Homo sapiens: one gene and its partners. The protein of the gene in region 1 purifies or fractionates together with the protein of each later gene. This does not show direct contact. Each region holds a gene or a part of one and is shown in the gene's direction. Other genes may lie near its edges. The genes, in order: BRINP3, CCDC88A, ATG2B, EDEM2 and SENP1.

The links.
Region 2: the proteins of BRINP3 (region 1) and CCDC88A purify together in Homo sapiens (affinity purification with mass spectrometry; one large-scale study listed by BioGRID and IntAct). This does not show direct contact.
Region 3: the proteins of BRINP3 (region 1) and ATG2B purify together in Homo sapiens (affinity purification with mass spectrometry; 2 studies listed by BioGRID and IntAct, with this or other methods). This does not show direct contact.
Region 4: the proteins of BRINP3 (region 1) and EDEM2 purify together in Homo sapiens (affinity purification with mass spectrometry; 2 studies listed by BioGRID and IntAct, with this or other methods). This does not show direct contact.
Region 5: the proteins of BRINP3 (region 1) and SENP1 purify together in Homo sapiens (affinity purification with mass spectrometry; one large-scale study listed by BioGRID and IntAct). This does not show direct contact.

Annotation. Positions count from the first base shown.
Region 1 is NC_000001.11:190,097,146-190,100,519, reverse strand, and holds the end of BRINP3 (BMP/retinoic acid-inducible neural-specific protein 3 isoform 1 precursor), read left to right. Parts: intron 1-1,385; coding exon 1,386-2,502; 3' UTR 2,503-2,862; downstream 2,863-3,374. UniProt on the Homo sapiens protein: Inhibits neuronal cell proliferation by negative regulation of the cell cycle transition. Promotes pituitary gonadotrope cell proliferation, migration and invasion, when overexpressed. May play a role in cell pituitary tumor development.
Region 2 is NC_000002.12:55,409,849-55,413,368, reverse strand, and holds part of CCDC88A (girdin), read left to right. Parts: intron 1-3,520. UniProt on the Homo sapiens protein: Bifunctional modulator of guanine nucleotide-binding proteins (G proteins). Acts as a non-receptor guanine nucleotide exchange factor which binds to and activates guanine nucleotide-binding protein G(i) alpha subunits.
Region 3 is NC_000014.9:96,356,829-96,360,348, reverse strand, and holds part of ATG2B (autophagy-related protein 2 homolog B), read left to right. Parts: intron 1-3,520. UniProt on the Homo sapiens protein: Lipid transfer protein required for both autophagosome formation and regulation of lipid droplet morphology and dispersion.
Region 4 is NC_000020.11:35,119,817-35,123,336, reverse strand, and holds part of EDEM2 (ER degradation-enhancing alpha-mannosidase-like protein 2 isoform 1 precursor), read left to right. Parts: intron 1-3,520. UniProt on the Homo sapiens protein: Involved in the endoplasmic reticulum-associated degradation (ERAD) pathway that targets misfolded glycoproteins for degradation in an N-glycan-dependent manner.
Region 5 is NC_000012.12:48,064,570-48,068,089, reverse strand, and holds part of SENP1 (sentrin-specific protease 1), read left to right. Parts: intron 1-1,124; coding exon 1,125-1,163; intron 1,164-2,409; coding exon 2,410-2,494; intron 2,495-2,869; coding exon 2,870-3,025; intron 3,026-3,520. UniProt on the Homo sapiens protein: Protease that catalyzes two essential functions in the SUMO pathway.

The DNA of each region.
Region 1 (3,374 bases):
TAATCCATGCATTTTATTCAATATTCAATAAATATTAAAGGCTTGTTATCTCCTGGCATTCTACTGGGCACAGGTTATGTAGCTATGAAAGAAAACATACAAGATTTTGGCAAATGGGTATTATATGTAATGAGAAAAACAATATAAATAAGTAAATACACAGTAATACAAAATCTTAAGCAGAAAAATGCACTATGAAAAACAGTAAGTAGATATTTAAAGGATTGAGTACAGCATATATATTTTGCAGGAAATCCAAAATGTATTAAATGTGAACACCAAAAAAGCATAAGAATACCAAAAATGGAATTGTTGTGTATCTACTGTGAAACAGACACTTTGCAATATTCTAAGTACATGCATAGAGTTTGACCTTAATTTATTTCTCACAAAATCTCAACATGGACGATATTACTATTCCCATTTTTCATATGAGAGAACTGTGTGTTATAGAGGCTGTGCAACTTTTCCCATGATCATACATGCAGTATGAGAAAGCAACAAACTGAAAACAAGGAATTGTGTTATTACAAGGCCATTGCTCTTCCCTCATTATTTTACTGGTTTTAAGACACCAAAATAGTTTAAATAATGCGAGAAAATCAGAAAAGTGAGATTTGAAAAAGGAATCATGATTAACCTGATGAGAAAAAAAATGTTAATGACTCAAATCAAACACATTAAACTAACACACTTACCCCTTATTGAAGGAGCTTGTTGATTTTAATGAGATATTTTCAACTATTTTCTTGAGCAGCCTGTAAGAATAAACATGTTTTAATATTTCTTTGAGTGGGTACTTGTTCTTTCAATGTTGATGACAACCCTAGCATCTAAATACACTGATTGACAATTTAGAGCTGTTTTTCTTTCATTTTTCTTTTACTTTCTATTCATCCTTCCTGCAACACTAGTGGTTTATAAAGCTAAGAGTAAATGAATGAACAATCACCATGTATATGCTCTAATTCTCCTACAGATATTTTATGATAAAATCACTTACCTTTCTTCTTCTTATTTCAAAACAATAATGACCCATTTTTATTTACAATGGTCTTCCATGTGCACTAATGAGATAGCATGCAATGTCTTTAGAAGATATCACATATTTAGAAATGTATTGCAGTTCAGACCAAGTATAGCTCTAATCTTGTTTTGTGCAGTGATAAATGGAATATACATACACACGTCTGTGTGTGTGTGTGTGTGTGTGTGTGTGTGTATTATATAGTCTAATTATGAGCTCTATGAATCTTTTATTTCATTTAAATTACTGGCTGGAGATGACCTGAAGAAATGATAGCAAAGATTTCTGAGCTACGGTTTACTGCAGTACACAGAATATCTTTGTATTTATGTAGATTCGTTCTGTTTTGTATTTCTAGAACCTCAACCTACTGGCTTACTCGCATCCAGTCTTTTCTCTACTGCAATGAGAACGGCCTCCTAGGCAGCTTTTCAGAAGAGACGCACTCGTGCACGTGTCCGAATGACCAGGTGGTCTGCACCGCGTTCCTGCCCTGCACAGTGGGAGACGCCTCTGCCTGCCTGACATGCGCACCAGACAACCGCACCCGCTGCGGCACCTGCAACACCGGCTACATGCTCAGCCAGGGGCTCTGCAAGCCTGAAGTCGCCGAGTCCACCGATCACTATATTGGCTTTGAAACTGACCTGCAAGATCTCGAGATGAAATATCTGCTGCAGAAAACGGACAGACGAATAGAAGTCCATGCCATTTTTATCAGCAATGACATGCGCCTCAATAGCTGGTTTGATCCCTCCTGGCGTAAGCGGATGCTCCTCACCTTGAAGAGCAATAAGTACAAGTCAAGTCTGGTCCATATGATTTTGGGTCTCTCTTTACAGATTTGCTTAACTAAAAACAGCACCTTGGAGCCAGTGTTGGCTGTTTATGTCAATCCCTTCGGAGGCAGCCACTCTGAGAGCTGGTTTATGCCTGTGAATGAAAACAGCTTTCCAGACTGGGAGCGGACTAAGTTGGACCTACCCCTGCAGTGTTATAACTGGACATTAACTCTGGGGAACAAATGGAAGACATTTTTTGAGACAGTACACATCTACCTGAGAAGTCGCATCAAGTCCAATGGTCCCAATGGTAATGAGAGCATTTACTATGAACCTCTGGAGTTTATTGACCCTTCCCGGAACCTGGGCTATATGAAAATCAATAACATTCAAGTGTTTGGCTACAGCATGCACTTTGACCCTGAAGCAATTCGGGACCTGATTTTGCAGCTGGACTACCCCTATACTCAGGGATCCCAGGATTCAGCACTTTTGCAACTACTAGAGATCAGAGACCGTGTAAATAAACTCTCCCCACCTGGTCAGCGTCGTCTAGATCTTTTCTCTTGCTTGCTTCGTCATAGACTCAAGCTGTCTACTAGTGAGGTGGTGAGGATCCAATCTGCTCTGCAGGCGTTTAATGCCAAATTGCCAAACACAATGGATTATGACACGACCAAATTATGTAGTTAACCATAAATGTCAAGCACAACCCAAAATCTTGAAGGAGTTTTTACAGTGCTTTTGTGGAACAGTTTATGTTTGGAAGAGTAAATTTAAATTGTCTTTTCAATATCTGTCTTATATCAGTCAATAACATTGGATGGCAATTTACACACATGAACTTGCTGACAATGAATATATTATACAGCAGTTTTGGTTTATGAATGACATAAATACTGACACCAGTCTAGAAGACATTCTACTTTTTACAATAAATTTCATTTGTAATTTTATATGTTCCGTGGCAATGCTTTTGTGCATTACATCCTCTAGAGGGAACATAAAAAGATACCAATAAAATTTTGTAGCTGAACAGTTATTAAAAAGAAATGCTGTGGGATTCCTTTTTTCCATGAAATGAGTTCTATTTTGATACAGTTTGTTAGAACCTGGGGAAAATTCACCAAGAATTTTTAATGGAAATATTTGAAGGTCTCTTTCAATTATTTTTATGGAAAACCCAAGTAGGTAGGATACTTACTATTCAGTTGTTTTTTATGGTTAACAGAACAACGACAGTAGTATGTTTATTACCTGTACTTGGGAAACCAATACTAGAGACACAATTGTAATTAAAGTACTCAGATAAACTAATTCTCAAACATCAGAATATTTCAGCAAACATACAGAAAAATCAGTGTGATAATAAAGCATAGCATGGAGAAAGCAAACCTTTAATTTCCTTAGCAACTTGCTTGCTTTCTCCTTCCCTTTCTACATTCTAGGAACCAATAATCAGCACACTCGGCACAATTATTTTAATTTCAAATCCTGAAAACCTAGTTATTCCAGCACTTTACCAGTGTCAATAAAACAACATTTCTAGAGTTCACAAGTTGTAA
Region 2 (3,520 bases), on another chromosome or scaffold:
GACAGATAAGTCTATTTTCTGTTTTGTTGACCCACTATATCCCCAGTGCTGGTTGCTGTCATTATTATTATCCTGTGCTATGCTATATCTACCTACTTATGGCTCCTCAAGTAAATCATGATAGTTCACAGCTTAGTTTTTTTGTTTGTTTGTTTGTTTTTGAGACAGGATCTCACTCTGTCACCCAGGCTGGACTGCAGTGGCACAATCGCAACCCACTGCAACCTCAAACTCCTAGGCTGAAGCAATCCTCCCACCTCAGCTTCCCAAGCAGCTGGGACTGCAGGCATGTGCTACTGCACCTGGCTAATTTTTTAAAATTTTTTTTATAGAGACCGGGTCTCACTTTTTTGCCCAGGCTGGTCTTGAATTCCTGGGTTCAAGTGATCCTCCCACCTCAGCTTCCCAAAGTGGCTGGCATTACAGGCATGAGCCACTGCGCCTGGCCGACAGCTTAGTTTTGTATGATCTCTGTTAGTGTCACCTCTATATAGCTGTATGATCTTTAGTAAGTTACTTAATTTGTAAGTGGGATAAAAAGTCACAGGATTGTTATGAGAATCAAATAGAATAATGTATGTACAATGCTTAACATATAGAAAGTGTCCAATAAATGTTAGCTCTTTATTGTTTTATTTATATTATTATCATTAGAATTATTTTCTTCAAGACCAGCGGTCCCCAACCTTTTTGGCAGCAAGGACTGGTTTCATGGAAGACGATTTTTACATGGAGCAAGGCTGAGGGGAGATGGTTTCAGGATGAAACTGTTCTACCTCAGATCATCAGCCATTAGATTCTTATGAGGAGAGTGCAACCTAGATCCCTCGCATCTACAGTTCACAATAGGGTTTGTGGTCCTGTGAGAATCTAATGCTGTTGTTGATCTGACAGGAGGCAGAGCTCAGGCAGTAATGCTTGCCCGCCCACCACTGATCTGCTGTGTGGCTTTCCTAACAAGCCATGGACCCAATCCATGGCCCAGGGGTTAGAGACTCCTGCTCTAGACTATCCTTCCCCTTTTCTTTGACTAACCAATTCCTGCTCTTCCTTTAATACCTTGTGAAGTCCCCAGGCAGAGTTGTTTTCTTCCTTATGATTCGGAAGTACCTTCACCTGCGTAGCTATTGCTTTGCAGTATTACTGTTTAGGGGCTAGATGTTTTGTCTCACATATTACTAGCACCTAACCTAGTACTTAGCATGTATCACTAGCACCTAGCATAGAAGTTGGCATGTCGTAAGTTGTAAGTAAATGTTGAAGGAATAAGTGAAGATAGCTGCAATTTTATTAATTTTCAAAATTTTGAGAATACCTTCTAGTTTTAGTACTGTAGAATTTAGTTTATTTTTTAGTTTGTCTTCTGTTTCTCCTTTTTGTTTGTTCTCTCTCTTTCCCCGTATTTGTTTTAATTACCTTTATTGGATATTTTTCCCACCGATGTTATATCTCCTTTGAGGCAAGGTGATAGGAGCAAGATTTCATGGTCCATGGTTTTTTATAGTATTAGAATATACAGTGCTTTCAGTTTGGTTTCCAATAACTTTCCTGTCCAATATGTTGAGTTTTTTTTTTTTTTTTTTTTTTTTGAGACGGAGTCTTACTCTGTCGTCTAGGCTGGAGTACAGTGGCGTGATCTCGGCTCACTGCAACCTCCTTCTCCCAGGTTCAACCAATTCTCCTGTCTCAGCCTCCTGAGTAGTTGGGATTACAAGGTGCCCACCACCGTGCCTGGTGAAGTTTTGTGTTTTTAGTAGAGACGGGATTTCACCATTTTGGCCAGGCTGGTTTCGAACTCCTGACCTCAAGTGATCTGTCCACCTGAGCCTCCCAAAATCTCATGCTGGGATTACAGGCATGAGCCACCGTGCCTGGGCCATGTTGAGATTTTTTTGTCCACAGCTTTGTATTGGACTGTCTTCAAGAAAAGTCCATTGTGATTGCCTCATTCTCAATATGATTCATATGTAGTTAAACTACAGAAATGATGAGAACCTAGAGAAGAACAGGTGAACTAGTTGTTATACCTGAGAGTATTTTTAAATTTTTTAACTGAAAATTTTCTCTTAATATATATTATGGGAGACTAGTTCTCACAGGATAAATGGAAAGGAAGACCAGTTCTTTCAAAAGGACACCAGCTGACTTTCTTTTAGGATCCATGAAACAGTTTGATACCATTCTAGGCATTAAGTTTTCAATATTCAGAAATAGTATTTGAGATTATACTTGGTACTGGGACATCTGTATAATACTTAATTTATTAATTAGTAAACTGGCTGCTTTTGGAGAGTCAGAGTGGTGGGAGGGCAAAAACAAAAACATGGGCTTGAAAGTTTAAATCCTGAATCAATCATTTAATATTTAGCTAGTTATTGAAACTGGAAAATTACTTTAAATGTTCTCTTTATTCCTGATTCTATTTTTATGCCTTCTTAGATCTATTTTACTAGTTTAATAATTTTTTTTTTTTTTTGAGACAAGGCCTCTCTCTCTTGCCGAGACTGGAATGCAGTGGCGAGATCTTGGTTCACTGCAACCTCTGCCTCCTGGGCTCAAACGATCCTCTCACCTCAGCCTCCTGAGTAGCTAGGACTACTACCATGCCCAGCTAATTTTTCTTTTCTTTTTTTTGTTTTTTGTTTTTTGTAAAGGCAGAGTTTTGCTGTGTTGCCCATTCTGGTTCCAATCTCCTGGGTTCAAGCTATCCACCACCTCAGCCTCCCAAAGTGCAGAGATTAGAGGCGTGAGCCAGTGTGCCTGGCCTACTTTAATAATTAATAAAAATAGGTGGATAAAACCCATCAACTTCACTCTGAGTGAGAGGAGATCTGCCCCTAACATTTGTAAGATCCAGGATAAGCATCCATTTACCACAATAGGCCTAAATATTTAAAGCTTATAAACCAGGCCAACAAATCATTATCTATATTCTAGTCTTTTCTCTTGATAAATATACCTTCATAATGACTTGAAAGTTTCAAATTTAAAATCTGTGGAATTTAGAATTCATAAATTCACAGTTTTGCAGCAGAGTGTGGTTAAGCCCAACCTCCTCCCGTCATCTCTGGCTCTTTCTAGCACCACAAAGAGGTCTCCTGTACATGCTGTGAACACCTTGCATGCACGCACAAGGTCTAAGCTCTTGTACTCCCATCCCCAAACAAGTACTCCTTGGCCCAAGGGTGTACACAAGTGTAGCACAGTCTTTTCTAAGGACAGACCTAGGAAAGAGGCCTGTGTGGGCCTTCAAATTGAGTTAGAAGTGCTTGGGCAAGAAATTGCAAAGTTCTGGGCACCTGGAGTGTCATTTAAAAGTGGGGAGGTAGGCCAGACTTGGGGGCTCACACCTGTAATCCCAGCACTTTGGGAGGCTGAGGCGGGTGGATCACTTGAGGTCAGGAGTTCAAGATCAGCCTGGCCAATATGGTGAAACCCCGTCTCTAATAAAAATACAAAAATTAGCAGGGCATGTTGGCGGGCCCCTGTAATCCCAGCTACTCGGGAGGCTGAGGCAGGA
Region 3 (3,520 bases), on another chromosome or scaffold:
GTTGCTTTCTTACTCATTATTAAAGTGCTATCTTTATTTTGAAAAGACAGATTAAGTATGTTTTGTTTTTTGGAAAATATCTGCTAGGTAGCATGTACTACTGATAGTCATTGTCATAAATACATAAATAGTCAGTGGAGAATTCTTCTCTGTGTAAAAGGAAAATGCTTATCTTTAAATCCAACCCTTAAACACTTGGCCATAGGAGAAACCAGGAAACCAGAAGGTAATTGCCATTCACTTTCTCTTTACAAAGATTCTACTGTTTAAAGGTCTGGTTTTATTCTATAGAATGTATGTGGAAATGTTTCAGTGTGCAGAAGTGGAAGGAACATCCAACTGAGGGCACCACTCTTAATCCTTCTCTGTTGTGGAACTACTAGTTTTCTCTTTGTACCAGTTTGATATGTGGCTTGAAGGAAGGTGCCAGTGCCCATTTGTATATTAAATATAAGTACAACTTTTCAATCTAAATTTGGAAAATTTAATATAGAATGTCTCATTTTCCTCTCACATCCTTATGAATCATCTGATAATACTTTAGGATATATGCATCCAGTTTTGGAGATTACTACCTTAAACGTGGCATGAAGTGGAGGGAGAAATAGAGGCAAGGGGTTTGGGATTGTTCCATCATTGGAATAGACTGTCTAAAAATTTCATAAACTCCTTGTCCCTAGAAGTGGTTGAAATGGCAAAATGTTGAAAGGAGGAAATTCTATTTGGGGTGGGAAGTTGGATTTAATGACTCATTCCTTTTTAACTCTATGACTGTGCCTTTATTTTTGATTTTTAAATGGAATTTCTTTCATTAATCGATTCAGTACATTTATTGAGCTCTTAGCATGTGCCACTGTGAGGGGCTGGGGGATATAGCAGTGAACTAAACAAAGACCCTTTTCTTACAGGAGCTCAAGAAGATACACATTAACAATTTATTACACTGAGGCCTTTTATTTTATTTTTTTTTTGAGACAGGGTCTCACTCTGTCACCCAGACTGGAGTGCAGTGGCGTGATCTAGGCTTACTGCAGCCTCAACCTGCTAGGCTCAAGCGATCCTCCTACCTCTCCTCCCCTCCCTGCAGTAGCTGGGACTACAGGTGCATGCCACCACACCTGGCTACTTTTTGTATTTTTTGTAGAGACGGGATTTCGCCATGTTGCCCAGGCTGGTCTTGAACTCCTGGACTCAAGCAGTCTGCCCATGTCGGCCTCCCAAAGTGCTGGGATTACAGACGTGAGCCACCACGCCTGGCCACTGAGGCCTTTTAACTTCAGTTTAAGAATGTTTCGATTGCTGCTTATATTCTCTTGGTGTTTAATAAAATTATCTTCAGTTCAAGAAACATTGATTACTGATTATTTGTCAAAGGTCACCTGGAGACTAGAGTGTTACCTTCACTTTTTCTGTTTATATGCGTGAAACTCATTGATGATAATTGAAAGCAAAATACCCTTAAACAGAAGAATAAAAAGCTCTAAAGGACTCTATGGTGGGGCATTTATTTGCTGAGTAGTTCAGGTGTCTCCACTTTTAGTTTAAGAGTTATTTTCTCGTTAGCATAGTGGTGACTAAAAAAAAAAAAATACTTGATAGGACTGGTGAGGAAACACTTCATAGGACTGGTGTGGAAAATGTTGCTTGAGCCAAGTAGGTTGAGAATTTTTACTACTCATATACTATAGTAGCCTTGGATTTTCCCAGAATGACTGAATTTCAAGGTACCTTATGCTACAAGATATATGGGATTTTGCTCAAGTGGTTATAAGACTGGGCATAAATATAACCTATTTAAACATCTTATACTTAGGGAAATTATTTTGTAGCTTAGTGGTGCAATGTAAATTCTGGAACTGTTGACTCTCCAAAACTGTTAACATTTATCAGTTTTTTTCTTTTTTTCCTTTTCTTTCTTTAGAGACAGTCTCTGTTACCTAGGCTGGAGTACAGTGGTGTGATCAGCTCACTGCAGCCTCAAACTCATGGGTTCAAGCGATCCTCCAATCCAGCCTCCTGAGTAGGTGGGGACTACTGATGTACACCACCACACCCAGTTAATTTCTTTTAATTTTTGTAGAGACCGGATTTCACTATGTTGCCCAGGCTGATCTTGACCTCCTGGGCTCAAGTGATCCTCCCACCTCAGCCCCCCCCAGTTTCTGGAATTACAGGCATGAGCCACCGTACCAGGCCCCTTTAATATTACTCTTCACTGCTGTAATAAACCTTTTTGTATTTAGAGGTTTAACTTTATTTCAACTTCTCTGCCACAAAATTGGGACGAAAACTTGGTGTTTACTGAGAAGAGAGTTCCATCAAGTCCCGTTTCTCTCATAGTTGTCTAAGGTTGACAGTTTGCAGAAGCTAAGTCATTGCCTCCATATGTTTTAAACACTGTTAGGTTTTTAATAGTTCATTTTTACTATACAATTAATATATGCTCATTACAAAAAATTCAAACAGTAAAGAAATATATGAGGTATGAAGTAATAGAGCTTAATCCCATCTCTTCCAGAGATAACAATATGGTACAAAAGTTTCAAACTTTTAGTTGTGGAAATACTTAATACATGAAGCAAGCAGTTCTACTTACCTTTTGAAGTCTTTTATGATGGGCCATTTTTTTAATGGAATGTGTCAAACATTCTTAAAAAAAAAAAACTATGAAAAAATCTGAAAAACACAAGTAGAGGGAAGAACCTTGATGACCGTAACTTGTGGTACCTAGTTGATGGTGAAATAGGAAATTCTAGAGAAGGAGCAGGTTTTCTCCACTGTCTGGAGTTGGGAGTGGGAGGAGGAGATTGAGATTGGACAGAGAATAAGTTTTACTATATTGATTTTTGAGGGGGCTTTAGAATGTGGGGGCTTTAGATCCAGGTAGAGAAGCTCAGGAGGCACTGGGAATATACGTATAGGAAGATTGCAGTTGTAAAGATATGGGAGTTATCAGAGTATCAATAGTGAATAACAGTGGCAGGAGATGGAACTGCACAAAGTGCGTGGGTAGTAAGTAGATCAGCTTGAGAAACAAAAAAGGCCGAAGATGAAACTTAGATGAACTCCAACATTTTAAATTGTAAAGGATCAGAAAAAAGATTGAGAGAGTGAAGTGTTACAGAAGTCAAGGGAAGTTAGAATTTCAAAAAAGGTGAGTGGTCCTAGGAACTAGGTAGAGATGAGAATTCAATAAAGATGAGGACTAAATATTGTTTATTGCATTTGTCATTTTAATGGTGGTTACAAGCAGTTTCAGAGGAGCTGAGGGTTAGAAGGTCGCTTGTAGTTTGCAGTTTGAGCAGATAACTACCTTGACAGAGAAAATGGGGTTGATGGCTAGGGGGAACATGGAGCAAGGTTAGGGGTTTTAGTTTACTTTTGAAAATAATAATGATCATTTATTAAATACCTTCCATCTCTATATACTGTACTGTGTGGGTGCTTTTACATACATTATTTTACTCTAAATTGGGTACTAACTTTCTGTTTACTGTGAGGTTAAATAACTTACTCAAGC
Region 4 (3,520 bases), on another chromosome or scaffold:
ACAGATGTGAGCCACTGCGACTGGCCCCATATGCTCTTTCAAATCAGGAAATGAGTGAGAAGGAAAAGGCCAAGGTTGACTCCTTTTGAGCTCCTGCCATCAGGATTTCAGAAGTGTAGGCAAGCTTCCTAAGTCCATGGGTCAGATAAATTATGCTTACGTGTATGGAATGTTAGAACTTTGGGGCGGACCTTAGGAATTACCTAGTCTCTTCCACCTCCCCATTTGCAGCTCAGAATCAAGCAAAGGACTATATTTGAGACACTCTCATAGGTTCCTTTCTAGCCCTAATGTCATTTGATTCACTTCAGGGAAGCTGAAAATTGTGAGGAGGGAAAGAAAAAGAGGGACAAAGGAAGGAAGCTTAGTCAGCACACATAGTCATCCCCCACCCCAAAACAGGCTATGAGCCCATTGTCTTAGACACTTCCCACTTTCCCACCTGAATTGCCTTTTAGCCATGGGACAGGCCTTCTGGTTATCCTGCCTTCCTCTACCCCATTTCCTTCCTCTTCTAACTCAAGTGATTATCGTAGGAGGTGTAGAGGGGACCAGGAGAGGGAATAAAGAGCAAATTCATCAACTTTTGACTCCTTAGAGGCCACTGTTATTGATGTTTCTCATGCATTTGTTCTCATGGCATGTTTTTAAAACAGGAAACTTGGTTGGGCATGGTGGCTCACGCCTGTAATCCCAGCACTTTGGGAGGCCAAGGCAGGTGGATCACCTGAAGTCAGGAGTTTGAGACCAGCCTGGCCAACATGGTGAAACCCCATCTCTACTAAAAATACAAAATTAGCTGGGCATGGTGGCGTGCACCTGTAATCTCAGCTACTGGGGAGGCTGAGACAGTAGAATCGCTTGAACCCGGGAGGTAGAAGTTGCAGTGAGCTGAGATCACGCCATTGCACTCCAGCCTGGGCAAAAAAGAGCAAAACTCCATCTCAAAAAAATAAATAAGTAAATTTTAAAAATAAGAAGCTCTGAGAAGGTATCGTATCTGGTGTTACCAACAGGTAAAGATTAGGGTTTGGAACTAAATGTAAGACATAGGCTTGCACAATCTTAGGGTTAGAGGGAACCTGAGAGGTGTTCTAATTGGAATTTTCCTAATATGGCCCTGTCAAGTGGTTATCTAGTTTTTGCTTAGTTACCACGAGTGACAAGGAGCTTGCTACTTAACAGAGGCAACCTGTTCCATTTGGGACAGGCTGGCAGGAAGGCATTCATGGAAAGTAAGACACTACTGGCCAGATGCAGTGGCTTATGCCTGTAATCCCAGCACTCTGGAAGCCTGAGGCAGGAGGATCATTTAAGCCCAGGGGTTCAAGATCAGCCTGGGCAACATAGCAAGACCTTGTCTCTATAAGAAATATAAATAAATTAGCCAAGAGTGGTGTTGCATGCCTGTAGTCCCATCCCAGCTACCTGGGAGGATCACTTGAGCCCAGGTGGTCGTAGCTGCAGTGAGCCATGATGGCGCCACTGCAATCCAGCCTGGGCAATGGAGTGAGACCCTGTCTCCAAAAAAAAAAAACATAAGGCACCGCTGTCAGGAATCCAGGAGTGCGTTAATCCAGTCATCCCTCCTACCCCAAAACAATGGCAAATAGGAGATAAGGACTACTCTTTCACTAAATTGGCCAGAGCCCTGTACTTTCGTATATGTCTCTCTGATCAGCAGTGTTGGAGCACAGAGCCTAGCCTAAAGGCCTCTGCAGGCTTTTACCTTCCTCTAAGTCCAAATCTGAACTTTGGGCTGTCTCCTTCCTCTAGAGCAGGGATTCCCCAACCCCCAGGCCGTGGACCGGTACAAGTCCATGGCCTGTTAGAAACCAGGCCACACAGCAGGAGGTGAGCTGCGTGTGAGCAAGCAAAGCTTCATCTATATTTATAGCTGCTCCTCATCGCTCACATTGCTGCCTGAGCTCCGCCTCTTGTCTTATCCGTGGTGGCATTAGACGTTCATAGGAGCACAAACCCTATTGTGAACTGCATATGTGAGGGATCTAGGTTGTGTGCTCCTTAGGAGAAGCTGATGCCTGATGATCTGTCACTGTCATCCATCAACCCCAGATAGGGCTGTCTAGTTGCAGGAAAACAAACTCAGGGCTCCCACTGACTCTACATTATGGTGGATTGTATAATTATTTCATTATATATTACAATGTAATAATAATATAAATAAAGTGCACAATAAATGTAATGCACATGAATTATCCCAAAACCATCTCCTACAAGCCCAGTTCATGGAAAAATTGTCTTCCATGAAACTGGTCCCTGGTGCCAAAACGGTTGGGGACCACTGCTCGACAGAGTTGGTCAGATGCACAGGAAAGTAAAGCAATAACTAACATGCTTAGGAGGCCCACATGTGAGGAGAGAAGCGTGATGGCTGGTCATGAGGGCACTGGCCCACCAGCTGCTAGAAGCAGAAGAGGGCTGGGTGTGGTGGCTCACGCCTGTAATCCCAGCACTTTGGGAGGCCAAGGCGGTGGATCAACTGAGGTCAGGAGTTCGAGACCAGCCTGACCAATATGGCGAAACCCTGTCTCTACTAAAAATACAAAAATTAGCCGGGCACGGTGGCATGTGCCTGTAGTCCCAGCTACTCAGGAGGCTGAGACAGGAGAATTGCTTGAACCTGGGAGGCAGAGGTTGCAGTGAGCCAAGATCATGCCATTGCACTCTAGCCTGGGTAACACAGCAAAACTCCCTCTCAAAAAAAAAAAAAAAAAAAAAAGAAGAAGCCGAAAAAAGAAGCAGAAGAGGAGGCCTCCCATGAGGGCACTGTCTTTTCTGCCTTTGAACACACAGAATGTGTTCATCTAGTAATGAATGTACCCTAGTCTGTGCCTTAGAATATGAGCAATTAGATTAGCAATTGTCTAGAGGCCTGTGAGGAGAGGGGAGGAGGAAGTAAGAGAGAACTGGGGAGATAGGCAGAGACCTTTTCTCTAAAATAAGAACTAGAGGCTGGGTGCAGTGACTCACGCCTGTTATCTCAACACTTCAGGAAGCCAAGACTGGCGGATGACTTGAGGTCAGGAGTTTGAGACCAGCCTGGCCAACATGGCGAAACCCTGTCTCCACTAAAAATACAAAAATTAGTCAGGGCTGGTGGCGCATGCCTGTAATTCCAGCTACTTGGGAGGTTGAGGCATGAGAATCCCTTGAACCCAGGAGGCAGAGTTGCAGTGAGCGGAGATCGCACCATGGCACTCCAGCCTGGGTGACAGAGTGAGACTCTGTCACAAAAAAGTAATTAACGGAATAAAATAAGAACCAGAGTTTGCAGCAATAAGCCAAAAGGGACAGAAGCACTGATCAAGCCCAGGAGGAAACAGGACAGGAGAAGGTCAGGGGGAGATGATGGTATAGAAAGGAGACAGGGGTTCTTCTGTCTCTTAGAAAAGATGGATGAAGTAGAAAAACATACTGAGCTGAGGCCACCCTTGAAGTCAACTCTACAACAGTTCTTCAGGTATTTGAAAGCAATAAACACATTTTTTTTGGATTT
Region 5 (3,520 bases), on another chromosome or scaffold:
CCAGCCTGGCCAACATGGTGAAACCTCGTCTCTACTAAAATAAAAATAAAAAAAAGAAAAAATTAGCCAGGTGTGGTGGCGGGTGCCTGTAATCCCAGCTACTCAGGAGGCTGAGGCAGGAGAATCTCTTGAACCCGAGAGGTGGAGGTTGCAGTGAGCCGAGATTGTGCCACTGTACTCCAGCCTGGGCAACAGAGTGAGAGTCAAAAAACAAACAAACAACACTAAATGCCTACTCTGTGCCAAGCACTATTCTAGTTGCAGATCATTTTTTTTTTTTTAAGAGACAGAATCTCACTATGTTGCCCAGGCTGGTCTTGAACTCTTGGCTCAAGCGATTCTCCCACCTCAGCGTCCTAAAGCACTGGGATTACAGGAATGAGCCACCATGCCTGGCCTCTGATCCAGGTCTCTTAACTCCCAATTTGATGCTCTGTTTACTTGTTCTCTATATTTAATAGTTTTCTTTGGAAAAGTGTTCACTCTTCTTCTTTGTGTTTCTGTGATAGATCCTGCCTAGTTAGGAGTTTGGAGATAAGGAAGTTTGAGAAAAACAAGAGGCTCTAGGACAATTAATCATGTCTGTGGCTCTGCTCAGCATATCACTTGGGTTGTCAGCAGAGCCACATGGACCTAGAATTGGCCTGTCATCTTTGGAAGGAAGTTGTGTTGCTGATTCTCTGCTTTGGCTCATTGGCTTGTTAGCCATTTGATGTAGATTATTTTGTGTGTGGGGATTTTTAATAAATCTTTCAATCTGAGTCATTTGGGAAGAGCAATGTTCTAGCTTAATGTATTATTTTGAGAAGTGATGTCCTCTTTCACGTAATGTTGGTCTCATGCAAGTAGGGAGCTATGCCAAATGTAGTATCTCTGCTGAACTTTGGGTCACCTTTTTAACTAATATGTATCCATATGATTTTAACTAATATGTATGCATAAGGATTGTGTCTCCTTAATTCCTAGTTACAATTATTTTATGTCATTTAGATTCCTTTTACTTATTCCATACTTGTAAAGCACTCATATAAACAATTTAAATGATTGTTTTTATTGATGAAAATATTTTAATTTTCTCATAAGCCTCCTGCTCATTTGTCAAATTTTTCTTTTCCTACCCATAGTTCTACTTTCTTCCAGGCAGAGCTGTGGATCAAAGAATTGTAAGTTATTTTTGGTATCATTTTTCCTTCTCAATCAGTTCATTTTTAGTTAGAAGAAATCAAACAATTAGCTAATCATCCTGCTTATTTTTTGCCAATAAGAAGTACCTGTTTAGGCTGGGCGCGGTGGCTCACGCCTGTAATTCCAGCATTTTGGGAGGCTGAGGCAGGTGGATCATCTGAGGTCAGGAGTTCAAGACCAGCCTGGCCTTCATGGTGAAACCTCATCTCTACTAAAAATACAAAAATTGGCTGGGCATGGTGGCACGCGCCTGTAATCCTAGCTACTTGGAAGGCTGAGGCGGGAGGATTGCTTGAACCTGGGAGGTGGAGGTTGCAGTGAGCCGAGATCACGCCACTGCACTCCAGCCTGGGCAACAGAGTAAGACTCCATCTCAAAAAAAAAAAAAAAGAAGTGCCTGTTTATACTTTTAAGTTGTTGGGTTTTCAAAATATTGTTGGAGTTGGAACATTTCTATACTTATGTTTATTAAATCTATAACAATTGTTGAAGCTAAATTAAATTGGAAAAATAGAGTTAGCTATTATATAATAGGGAAAATAAATGATCCTATTTTGGCATTTGTAAAACTAATTTATTGAATAATTCATATTTCTGGACTTTGCAAAATCACTGAAAGCATTTAGTCTCACTTAAGGAACTTAAGTTATCCAAACCCCTCGGTCTCGGTAATTTTTTAAAAATCTATCAAAAATGAAGTATTTGAATTAAACTTCAGTGATATCTTGTATTCGTTTCTCCTTTAGGGTTCAATCCCATTTTTGGATTTCCAGACTGAAGTTTCGCTTTCACTATAATCTTAAAAGCATGTTAAGAAAAGAACTGTGTGTTTACAAATGTTAACAAGTCATCTGTTCACATTTAGCAGCACACTAATATTTTTAGTAATTTCAGTAAAAATAGGTCGGGTGCAATGGCTCACATCTGTAATCCTAGCACTTTGAGAGGCCAAGGTAGGGGGGTCGCTTGAGCCCAGGAGTTTGAGACTAGCCCGGGCACTGTAGTGAGACCCTATCTCTATAAAAAATAATAAGTAAAAATGGTAGAGTAATTTCAGTAACATTATGTGGTTTCACTCTATGTCTTAAAATAAGGATGATAAGTTAGTGTAAGGATTTTAGACTTTCTTTGTGAGGGTCCTGTATTTAATATTCAGTGTACATCAACAATATGTTTCATAATGAGAGTGGTCTACATTTGGTCACGTTCCTTTTCATTTTCTAGAACTAGTGTTTATGATTCTCGAGCACGAGAAAGATTGCGCCAGATTGAAGAACAGAAGGCATTGGCCTTACAGCTTCAAAACCAGGTAAAAAAGAAAATTGGAATAATATTACAAATAAATAGTACATCAAAGTAGAAACTATTTTGGAAAGTTACCCAGATTTGGGTAATTGCTGTTGTAATTCCAAGATCGTATGGTAGCATAGCATGTTATGATATGTCGTAAATGTTCTTGGTCTGTCCAGTCAGTGCTACTCATTGTACATAAGACAAATATAGATAGTCCCCTACTTGTGATGGTTCGACTAATGATTTTTTGACTTTACAAAAAAGCGAAAGCAATGGGCATTTAAGCACGCTCTTTGACTTATGACAGGTTTATTGGGACATAACCCTATCATAAATCAAGGAACATCCACAGATTTCTTTATCCCACTTACTCTGAAGTTTTATCTTTCAGAGATTGCAGGAGCGGGAACATTCAGTACATGATTCAGTAGAACTACATCTTCGTGTACCTCTTGAAAAGGAGATTCCTGTTACTGTTGTCCAAGAAACACAAAAAAAAGGTCATAAATTAACTGATAGTGAAGATGAATTTCCTGAAATTACAGAGGTAAGTTACATACACTTAATTTCTACACTACTAAGTATCATGTTTAGAAAGAATCCCTCGGATGAGTTTCAAACATAAAAGCAATAGTGGTCAGGCACGGTGGCTCACGCCTGTAATCCCATCACTTTGGGAGACTGAAGCGGGTGGATCACTTGAGGTTAGGAGTTCGAGACCAGCCTGGCCAACATGGTAAAACCCCATCTCTACCAAAAATACAAAAATTAGCTGGGTGTGGTGGCATGCACCTGTAATCCCAGCTACACAGGAGGCTGAGGCAGGAGAATTGCTTGAACCCGGGAGGCAGAGGTTGCAGTGAGCCGAGATCATGCCACCGTACTTCAGCCTGGGTGACAGAGCAAGACTCCATCTCACATACACACACACACAAAAAGCCATAGAACACGTGTTATTTAAATTTTCTTGTATATTTCAGCTTTCGCTTATTTTATATACCAATCTGGGCTTTATTTTTAAAATATTGAAAATTTATGAAAG